2 separate regions of the Homo sapiens genome follow, and region 2 is linked to region 1. The links come from fine-mapping of genetic effects on gene expression. Tissue or cell type: whole blood. Region 1 holds a variant in brackets; the other region holds the start of a gene. All regions are shown on one strand. Distances are from middle to middle.

What was found. PIP is the estimated chance that this variant, and not a neighbour inherited with it, causes the effect.
Region 2: it holds the start of PCYOX1, and the variant in region 1 is fine-mapped to the expression of PCYOX1 in whole blood (INTERVAL, PIP above 0.99).

The regions. Positions count from the first base shown.
Region 1 is chr2:70,127,035-70,132,295 of GRCh38, reverse strand. No RefSeq gene overlaps it. Among named protein-coding and RNA genes, the nearest start is that of LINC01816, 4.3 kb to the right of the region's middle. The variant G/C (reference allele first, on the strand shown) is at 2,382.
Region 2 is chr2:70,256,232-70,261,231 of GRCh38, reverse strand. It overlaps PCYOX1 (prenylcysteine oxidase 1), which reads right to left and starts at 3,095. Exons shown (of 6, transcript NM_016297.4): 1 at 2,956-3,095; 2 at 1,666-1,872; 3 at 1-20. The coding sequence starts at 3,067. RefSeq lists silencers at 2,730-2,839, 3,110-3,239.

The DNA of each region.
Region 1 (5,261 bases):
TGCCCTCCAAAGATGTCTAAGGCACATGGTACAGTGGAAGGAAGGGACAGCAGTTTTGTTTAATTTCATGTTGCTTAAAAAAATGTTTATATGCATTTGCTTTTTTGAACAGATAATTTATTTATATGTTTAAAACTAAAAAAAATGAAAAGATGTACATCTCTTCTGTCCCTGTCCCCCAAATGCCCACTTTCCCCCACCCTAAATAGATAACCCTGTTATAAGGTTTTTGTTTATCCTTCTAACGTTGTTTTTCTACACATACAAGCTAAAACAAATCTATACCCTTCCTTACTCCATTTTAACATATTTAGTGCCAGTCTGTACACGTTCTACACGTTTGTTGGGTTTTTCCCCCGCTTTAACACCCTATCTTGGTGACATTTCCTTATCGGTATATGAGAGTATCCTCATTTTTATCTATCTTTGCGGCTGTAGAGTATTACATTGTATGGACTACTATAATTTAACTGGTTCCCATCAAGGGGTGTTTAGATTGTTTCCAGTCTTTTGGCATTACAAATAAAAGCATGGACTTTAGAGACATGTGCTTTCAAACCCCAGTCCCGATGCCTACTAGGTGATTGACAATGGGTCTTAATTGCCTCCTCTGTAAAGAGGAATTTTTTGTTTGTTTGTTTGTTTGAGACAGAGTTTTGCTCTTGTTGCCCAGGATGGAGTTCAGTGGCGCGATCTCAGCTCACTGCAACCCCCGCCTCCTGGGTTCAAGCAATTCTCCAGCCTCAGTCTCCCAAGTGGCTGGGATTACAGGCATGTGCCACCATGCCCGGCTAATTTTGTATTTTTACTAGAGACGGGGTTTCGCCATGTTGGTCAGGCTGGTCTCGAACTGCTGACCTCAGATGATCCACCCGCCTCGGCCTCCCAAAGTGTTGGGATTACAGGCATGAGCCACTGCACCCGGCCAGGAATTATTTTATGTTTATTTCACCTGTCCCTTAACATTGCTGTGAAAGACTCATATAATATACAAAGAACTTGAGAAATCCTAGGTGCTCAGTGGAAACAATATACCTTGCAATGAAGCATATTCAAATTTATTCTTGAAAAAAAGAATACTGATCAGGACCCCTGGCTCATGCCTGTAATCCCCACGCTTTGGGAGGCCAAGGTCTCAAGAAGGACTGCTTGAGACCAGGAATTCAAGACCAGACTGAGCAACAGAACAAGACCCTACCTCTTCAAAAGTAAAAATAAAAAAATTAGCCAGACATGGTGGCACATGCCTATAATCCCAGCTACTTGGGAGGCTGAAGCAGGAGGATCTCTTGAGCCCACTACTGCACTCCAGCCTGGGTGAAAGAGCAAGACCCTGACTCTAAAAAAAAAATGTGTTTGATTATTTTTTGAGACAGTCTTGCTCTGTCACCCAGGCTGGAGTGCAGTGATGCAATCTCGGCTCTCTGCAACCTCCGCCCTCCAGGTTCAAGTGATTCTCCTGCCTCAGCCTCCCGAGTAGCTGGGATTACAAGTGTGCAACACCACGACTGGCTAATTTTTGTATTTTTAGTAGAGACAGGGTTTTGCCAGGAGTTGGAGGTTGCAGTGAGCCGAGATCACGCCACTGCACTCCAGCCTGGGCAACAGAGCAAGACTCCTTCTCAAAAAAAAAAAAAAAATGTGGCCACTGAAAAATTGTTAACATGATTCACTTTATATTGCTATTGACAGCATCTTCTATGCACTTTCCTACATAATCATCCTTCGCTTGGGTGAAGACAGTCCGTGTGATTGCCTGAGTCTTCTCTTCTCCAGTTATATCACACTGCTTGCGCCTTTTATTTTTTATTTTTTTTCAGACGGAGTCTCGCTCTGTTGCCAGGCTGGAGTGCAGTGGCGCAGTCTCGGCTCACTGCAACCTCCGCCTCCCAGGTTCAAGCAATTCTTCTGCCTCAGTCTCCCGAGTAGCTGGTACTACAGGCACGCACCACTATGCCCAGCTGATTTTTGTATTTTTAGTAGAGACGGGGTTTCACCATGTTAGCCAGGATGGTCTCAATCTCTTGACCTTGTGATCCGCCCGCCTCGGCCTCCCAAAGTGCTGGGATTACAGGCGTGAGCCACCACGCCCAGCCTGCTTGCTCCTTTCAAATCTGTTGATATACTGAAACCTCCTGAACTGAGATCATCCCGAGACCTCACTGTCTTGAACATGCTCAGTTCCCTCCACTCTTCCTTACAGATCATTTCTCATAGAACCAAATTTTGTCATCCTTGTTGTCCACATCTCAATATTCTCCAGGTTATGGCTATCTCTATCCCTCCTGCCCTCCAAAATGAGACCACACGCTTGTAATCCCAACACTTTGGGAAGCCAAGGCAGGCAGACTGCTTGAGCCCAGAAGTTGGACACCAGCCTG[G/C]GCAATGAAGTGAGACCCCTTCTCTATCAAAAAAAAAGAAAAAGAAAGAAAACAAAATAAATTTTTAAAAAAGGGGAGACAGAATCCTCCAGAGAACCGTTGCAGATGTCCCAGAAAGGTGATGCTCCCAAGTGCACAGGGACAGAAAGTAGAATGGTGGTTGCCAGGAGCTGGGTAGAGGGGAATGAGGGAGGAGTTGTTTCATGGGTACAGAGTTTCAGTTTAGGATGATGGAAGAGTTCTAGAGATGGATGATGGTGGTGAGTGCACAACCACGTGACTATATTTAGTGCCACTAAACTACACTTAAAAAATTGGTTAAAATGGGGCCGGGCGCGGTGGCTCACGCCTGTAATCCCAGCACTTTGGGAGGCCGAGGCGGGCGGATCATGAGGTCAGGAGATCGAGACCATCTTGGCTAACACGGTGAAACCATGTCTCTACTAAAAATACAAAAAAAATTAGCTGGGTATGGTGGCGGGCGCCTGTAGTCCCAGCTACTTGGGAGGCAGAGGCAGGAGAATGGCGTGAACCCGGGAGGTGGAGCTTGCAGTGAGACGAGATTGTGCCACTGCACTCCAGCCTGGGCCACACAGCGAGACTCCGTCTCAAAAAAAAAAAAAAAAAAAAAAATTGGTTAAAATAGGGTGGGTGTGGTGGCTCAAGCCTGTAATCCCAGCACTTTGGGAGGCCGAGGTGGGTGGATCACCTAAGGTCAGGAGTTCGAGACCAGCCTGGCCAACATGGTGAAACCCCGTCTCTACTAAAAAAAAAATACAAAATTATCTGGGCATGGTGGTGGGCAGCTGTCATCCCAGCTACATGGGAGGCTGAGGCAGGATAATCACTTTAACCTGGGAGGCGGAGGTTGCAGTGAGCCGAGATTGCGCCATTGCACTGGGCAACAAGAGTGAAAACTCCATCTTGAATAAAAAAAAAAAGCATTAGTCTCTTCACCCCACTCCCCATCAAGTTTTCCCAGACTGGGCCGGGCGCCATGGCTCACGCCTGTAATCTCAACAATTTGGGAGGCCGAGGCGGGTGGATCACGAGGTCAGGAGATCGAGACCATCCTGGCTAACATGGTGAAACCCCGTCTCTACTAAAAATACAAAAAATTAGCCAGGCATGGTGGCGGGCACCTGTAGTCCCAGCTACTCGGGAGGCCGAGGCAGGAGAATGGTGTGAACCCGGGAGGTGGAGCTTGCAGTGAGCGGAGATCGCACCACTGCACTCTAGCCTGGGTGACAGTGTGAGACTCCGTGTCAAAAAAAAAAAAAGCTTTCCCAAACTGGAAAATGCATGCTGTCTTGCGGCATGGTCCTGGGCATCTGTGAGGGCCTGCACTGACCTCTGAAGTATCTCCATGTCCAAGGGAGTACAACAATAAATAGTAAATAAAAACATCATGACAGGTTGAGAGAGAGACTGTAGAAAAAATGAAAGGGCTTTTTTCATCCTTTTATGAGAAAGGGGCCCATATTTTCATTTTCCCCTGGGCCCCAAAAATTATGTAGCCAATCCTGCTGGCAGATAAAACATTCCTGAAGGAGGTAGCCAGAAGCCTAATAATATTCTGGGGGTATTGTGGCTTAAGTATGTCAGCCCTGTCCAAATGTAGAACAATGCTGGGGGCTATTTCAAGCCACGTGAAATGTCAACACCTGTGGTAAAGGACTATTAGCAAAGCTAATGTGCAGAGTCTGCACACATGACAAGAAAAAAGTCAACTTGCTAGGAGGGGTTTGTTGGCTGTTTAGCTTTATCTGGACAAGGGAAAAAGTGGGTAGAAAAGGCTCTCTGGCTAGTTCCTCCTTGAAGCAAGAACTCAGCTTGTTTCTCTGGATAGTCTGTGGTCAGATATAACAATGGAAACTTCAGGAAATCTTTATTTAAAAAGAGAAGGTATCTCCCCACACCTTCTTCAATATTAGGTGCCACCAAATTCTGGCTGTTGATCTGTTACTCAACAACAACAAAAAATGTCTTTTGTTTATTTTTATGTCTGATTCCAAGGAGAGTTGAACTTATTTAAAGTGGGTCTTTAAAAAAAATCACTTCAGATGTTTGTTTCTTTTGAATTTTCCATTGGTATTCATTTTCTTATTTATTTGCAAGCACTTCCTACATAGCAAGAATAACAACATTTTGTTTTCATGTGTGTTGCAAATAGGTTTTCCCAGTTTGCCTATTGTTTTTTAACCTTGCCCGTTTGGAATAGCTTCAAGCCACATCATCTGATGGGAATGGAGGTCACCCTAACAGTGATACTGCAATGTCACTAATTCAATAACCACCAAATTTACTGCTAATAATCGCCAACATTTACTGAACATGCACCATATGCTTCATGTGCCATTAATCCACAAAATTACCCTATAAAGTAGGTACTATTTTTAGTTTCATTTTGTAGATGAAGAAACAGAAATAGGAGAGGCTAAGTAATGTGCCTAGTTACCCAGCCTAGTAAGGGATGGAATGTGGGGCTTGAACCCAGCCCTGACTCCTAAGTCCAGTTTCCAACCCTGCACTGTCCAATACAGTGACCGCAGGTAGCTATAGAGCACTTCACATGTAGCCAGCCTGATTTCAGAGACCAAGTGTAAAAAAAAGAATGTCAGATATCTCATTATTAAAAAATTTTTTTTTCAACAGGGTCTTGCTTTGTCACCCAGGCTGGAGTGCACTAGTGTGAACACAGCTCACTGCAGCCTCAACTTCCTGGGCTCAAACGATCCTCCCACCTCAGCCTTCTGAGTAGCTGGAATCACAGGTGTGTGCCACCATGCCCAGCCTCTCATTATTAATTTAAAAATTGGCCAGGTGTGATGGCTTACGCCTGTAATCTCAGCACTTTGGGAGGCTGAGGCAGGCAGATCA
Region 2 (5,000 bases), 130 kb before region 1:
GGCCTGAACAGCAGAGAGACCTGCAAAAACATAAAGCACAGCTAAGTCAGTGGTGTCTATGCTGATCAAATGAAAGAACGTAATCTGAGTGAATTTGGGGCTTCCCTCAGTTCTCAGGAGACACATAAAGGAGCTCTATCTTTGGAACAGTGTGAAACACTATACTTTCACTACACTGTCCAAAAGCAGATTTGCTAGGCGATGGGTCAGATGATCATGTAAATATTAATATATCAAAAGTAGATATATTTTTACCTGGCTATTTTTAGACTAAAAGTCTAAAAAAACTGGATAGTCAAAGGAAAAAAGCCAGAGTACCAACTGAATTCAATTTAAAAACAAAGATGTCAGACATGCATCTTCGTGGCATAATTTGTTCTGGGTATACCTTCGCCCTCGTGGAGGAAACGGAAGCAGAGGCAGCATCTACAGAGGATGTGGAAGGCAGCTGAGGCACTTCCATTCCTGTGAGAATCCTATTTTGCAAAACTGGATATTTCAGATAACTGGAAGGAGGCCAAAGTTACAAAATACTCCCTGCCGAAAGGGCCTCCAGAGGCCTGTCAGACTTTCCCCATGACCTATCCAGCTCCTCTGCTGTCAGGGCAGCAGTTGCACATCCCAAGTTCTAGGCACGTGTCTGCATCCACAGCTGTGTGACGGAGTTTGTTTTGTTGGTGGTGGTTTGTTTTGATAGGGTCTCACTTTGTTGCCCAGGCTGGAGTGCAGTGGCATGCAAGGCTCACTGCAGCTTCTATCTCCCAGGCTCAAGGGATCCTCCTGCCTCTGCCTCCCAAGAAGCTGGGACTACAGGTTTGTGCCATCACACCAGGCTAACTTTTTTATTTTTAGTAAAGACAGGATCTCACTATGTTGCCCAGACTGGTTTCTAACTCCTGGGCTCAAGTGATCCTCTGCCTCGGCCTCCCAAAGTGCTGGGATTACAGGCATGAGCCACTGACCCTGGCCATGGCCATATGTGAGTGACTTTGAGCCAGACAATTCAAGTCTCTGGGTCTCATTTACTCAGCTGCAAAATGATCACAATGAGATGACTATCTCCAAACCTTCTCTGATTCTTTAACACAAACCCAGAATTTTAAGAACAGACAACAGAGGCCGGGCACGGTGGCTCACCCCTGTAATCCCAGCACTTTGGAAGGCCAAGGCAGGCGGATCACCTGAGGTCAGGAGTTCAAGACCAGCTGGCCAACATGGTGAAACCCCGTCACTACTGAAAATACAAAAATTAGCTGGGCGTGGTGGCAGGCACCTGTAATCCCAGCTACTCAGGAGGCTAAGGCAGGAGAATCGCTTGAACCCGGGAGGCAGAGGTTGCAGTGAGCCAAGATCGCACCATTGCACTCCAGCCTGAGCGACAAGAGCGAAACTCCTCAAAAGAAAAAAAAAGACAATGGCAGCCATTCCCACCCCCACCCCATGGCTGTAATTCCAGATAACTGAAGATACAGACAACTAGTGTCCCATTACAGCAGAACTGCTCCTAACTCAGGCAGTACCAACTAACAAGAAAGTGAGGAAAACAGTTTTACCAACGTCTCTGTAAGGCAATTAACAAGGCAGAAATTTCAGTTCTCCATCTGATAAAAATATCCGGGGATGTCACACAGTAATCTGGTGAGCTCCAAGACCAAAATTACATACCCAGGTCTTTGACAAAACGTTTCATGTGCAGATTTAAAGGATGGATGACAGAACCTCCTGCCTCGTATTCTTGCCCCTGCACCATCATGGTAGCCAGGCGGCCCCCGACCTCTTCTCTTTCAAACAGGTCTATCTTCACATCTTTCCCAAATTTCTGCCGCAGGTAATAGGCTGCTGAAGTGCCACCAATTCCGGCTCCAATAATCGCTATGAGGGAAAAAAACAGAAGATTATATTTTCCCCTTTTACCAGCTCTGTGAGTTGTTTTGTTTTTGAAAGACCATCAATAGCAGAGGTTGTTACTCAAAGCTATTACCAACAATTTGGTGGGGGAAGAGTGACACCTGCAGCGAAGGTCTAACTCCCTGAATCTGGACAGACACTGTTCCCAGACAAAAGCAGTAGATTAATTAACATATTGACATTAACTCGATTTTTTTTCCAGATGCCCAAAGATTCTCACAGGTCTTTATGGAGGAACCAAGGGGCCTGCACACCCTTCCAGATGCCCAACTCACGGGCACATTAGAGGTGGACCTTTCCAGCACGCATTTTTAATAAAGTGACGGCCATTTATGCCTAGCTTTGTTGTGTCTAGATTCAATGTAGATAGGTTAATGATACCGAAGAACACAACTTTAAAGGGGGGCGGGAGGGAGACAGGAAGCAAAGAGCCAAGGCTCCTGACACTGGAGCTCTTGACAGTGGAAAGAGAACAGATTCTTTCTGCAGCTGTGTTAGTCCTAGGCGGAGAAACTGTGCAAGCCAAGGGCCTCTGAGAGCAGGCCGACCTCAGCAAAGCGGAGCTGGGGGAAGGCGGTTCAGCCTCCCAAGGGAAGCAGGCAGGGTCAACTTGTTTGCACTCCTCCCTGTGCTGTGCCTGCGTGAGCCTGTTAATCTGGCCGGGCGCCCCAGGTCAAGCCAGAACACTGGAGTCTTCACGGTCAGTGTTCAACGGGAAGATAGAGAAACCTAGGCCTCCCCGGAGCCCCACACCTAAGAGACAGGGGCTACAGGTACGCTAGGCGCCTGCCTGCCCGCCCGCCCCTGTCCCCGTCCACGCCCATTCCTCAAGTGGGCACCTCTCCACGCCTGGGAATGCACAGTCCTATTCCGACCAGAGCTGAAAGCCGCCCTGAAGTGTGAATGGGGGAAAGCGCGACCTGCGCAGCTGGCTCGGCCTGCACCGCTGGACTGCGTCGCGGCTGTGGGATCTGGGCGCACTGCGCAGCGGCCGCCCGGCGCGGGGCGCGCTCCAGCACCTTCCCGCGCCGCCCCCTTCTCGCCTACCGATTTTATCTGGCGGAGCACGCAGCTCGGCGCCCTCGGGGCATCCGCAGCTGCACAGCAACAGCCACAACCCCAGCAGCGAGGAGACGAGCTCCGCGACGACGCGCCCCATGGCCTCCACAAGCTCTGCAGCTGGCCTCAAGAGCCCCGCAGTCCTCCCACCGCTGCGCGGCTGCGCGCTCCGCCCAGCCCCGCCCCCAGGCCGCCCAGCCCCTGCGAGCCCCGCCCAGGTCCTGCGAGCCCCGCCCCGACCTCGCCCCGCCGGTCCTCTCAACCCTGCAGGAGCTCCCCACTCTGGGCCACTCAGTGCCCTAAGCACATCCTGCCGCCTCGAAGCCCACCCTCCTTCAGAAGACATCGAAGGCAGAAGCTGGCCGGGCGCGGTGGCTCAAGCCTGTAATCCCAGCACTTTGGGAGGCCGAGGTGGGTGGATCATGAGGTCAGGAGATCGAGACCATCCTGGCTAACACGGTGAAACCCCGTCTCTACTAAAAATACAAAAATTTAGCTCGGCATAGTGGCGGGCGCCTGTAGTCCCAGCTACTCGGGAGGCTGAGGCAGGAGAATGGCGTGAACCCGGGAGGCGGAGCTTGCAGTGAGCCGAGATTGCGCCACTGCACTCCAGCCTGGGAGACAGAGCCAGACTCCGTCTCAAAAAAAAAAAAAAAAAAAAAAAGGCAGAAGCTGAGGCTCGCCTCAGCTCTCCTCCTCCTTCCCTATCTATTTGGGTGAAGCACCTTAGTTCTTCACTAGTACCCTCTTCTGTTCCCTCCGTCGCTCCTCTCAAAGAATGCGCACAGCTAATCGCTGCCAGAAACAGACCAAAGGGACAACAGTACTTACTGAGTGATCACCCTGTTGCGAGAACTGTAAGGTTCTCCGTGAATGGGTAAATGGTGCTAACTGTAAAGAAAAATGAGGGAGACTGAGGATGGGGTGGCCCAAGGTGAAGGGGGTGTAATAGTAGTAACAGACATGAATAAAAGTAGTGTACCTGTAAGGACACCAGAATGTGCCACCCCAAAATACGCCTCTTTAGCCTAAGGATTATTTCAAGCCGAAGACAATTGAGAAGATGTAGATACGATGTAGATACGTGGGTGGAAAGTTCTCCGCCTTCCCCATTTGCCTAAAAGCAGGACATAAATTTTATTTTTTTAACAATTTTTAAATATATTGCATTTTATTACATAAAAGTAAAATTAGTAAAATAATATAATTTGATATACTTTATAATTTATAATTTCTCTCAGTATAATGTAGAAAAGTATTACTCTGAACACTTACTTTTTTTTTTTTTTTTTGAGACGGAGTCTCGCTCTGTTGCCCAGTCTGGAGTGCAGTGGTGCGATCTCAGCTCACTGCAAACTCTACGTCCCGGGTTCAAGCAATTCTTCTGCCTCAGCCTGTAGCTGGGACTACAGGCACCCGCCACCGTGCCTGGCTAATTTTGTGTATTTTTAGTAGAGACGAGGTTTCAGTGTGTCAGCCAGGATGGTCTCGATCTCCTGACCTCATGATCCACCCGCCTCGGCCTCACAAAGTGCTGGGATTACAGGTGTGAGCCACCGCGCCTGGCCATGAACACCTACCTTAAACATTACTTAATTTAGGCTAACTACAATGAGCCTCGCTACTTATATTTTTATCATGCATCTTACATTTTAATGTCCTTACTCTTTTATAGAAAAGGTCATAAAGAATGCCCAACTAATAAAGAATCTCTAATATCTCTGATACAGCAACAACTGATCACATACTTTCACATGTGAATACAATAGAAATAAAGTAACAGCATAAAGTAATTTGAAAGCTGTATTATATTATTATTCACTTTTCAAAAAATTGTTTTCAAGGAAACAAATATACTTTCAATGTAATTACAAAGCTTCAAAAAAACTCCTTTTAAAGTTATATACAAATAATTTAACAACTTTAATTGTGAATTCATTTTTATACTCAACACTCCTATTTAGTGTAATGTCTGAAGTAAAGCAGGACATAAATTTTAAAAGGCAAAGGTATCCCTCTTCCCACACTGCCTG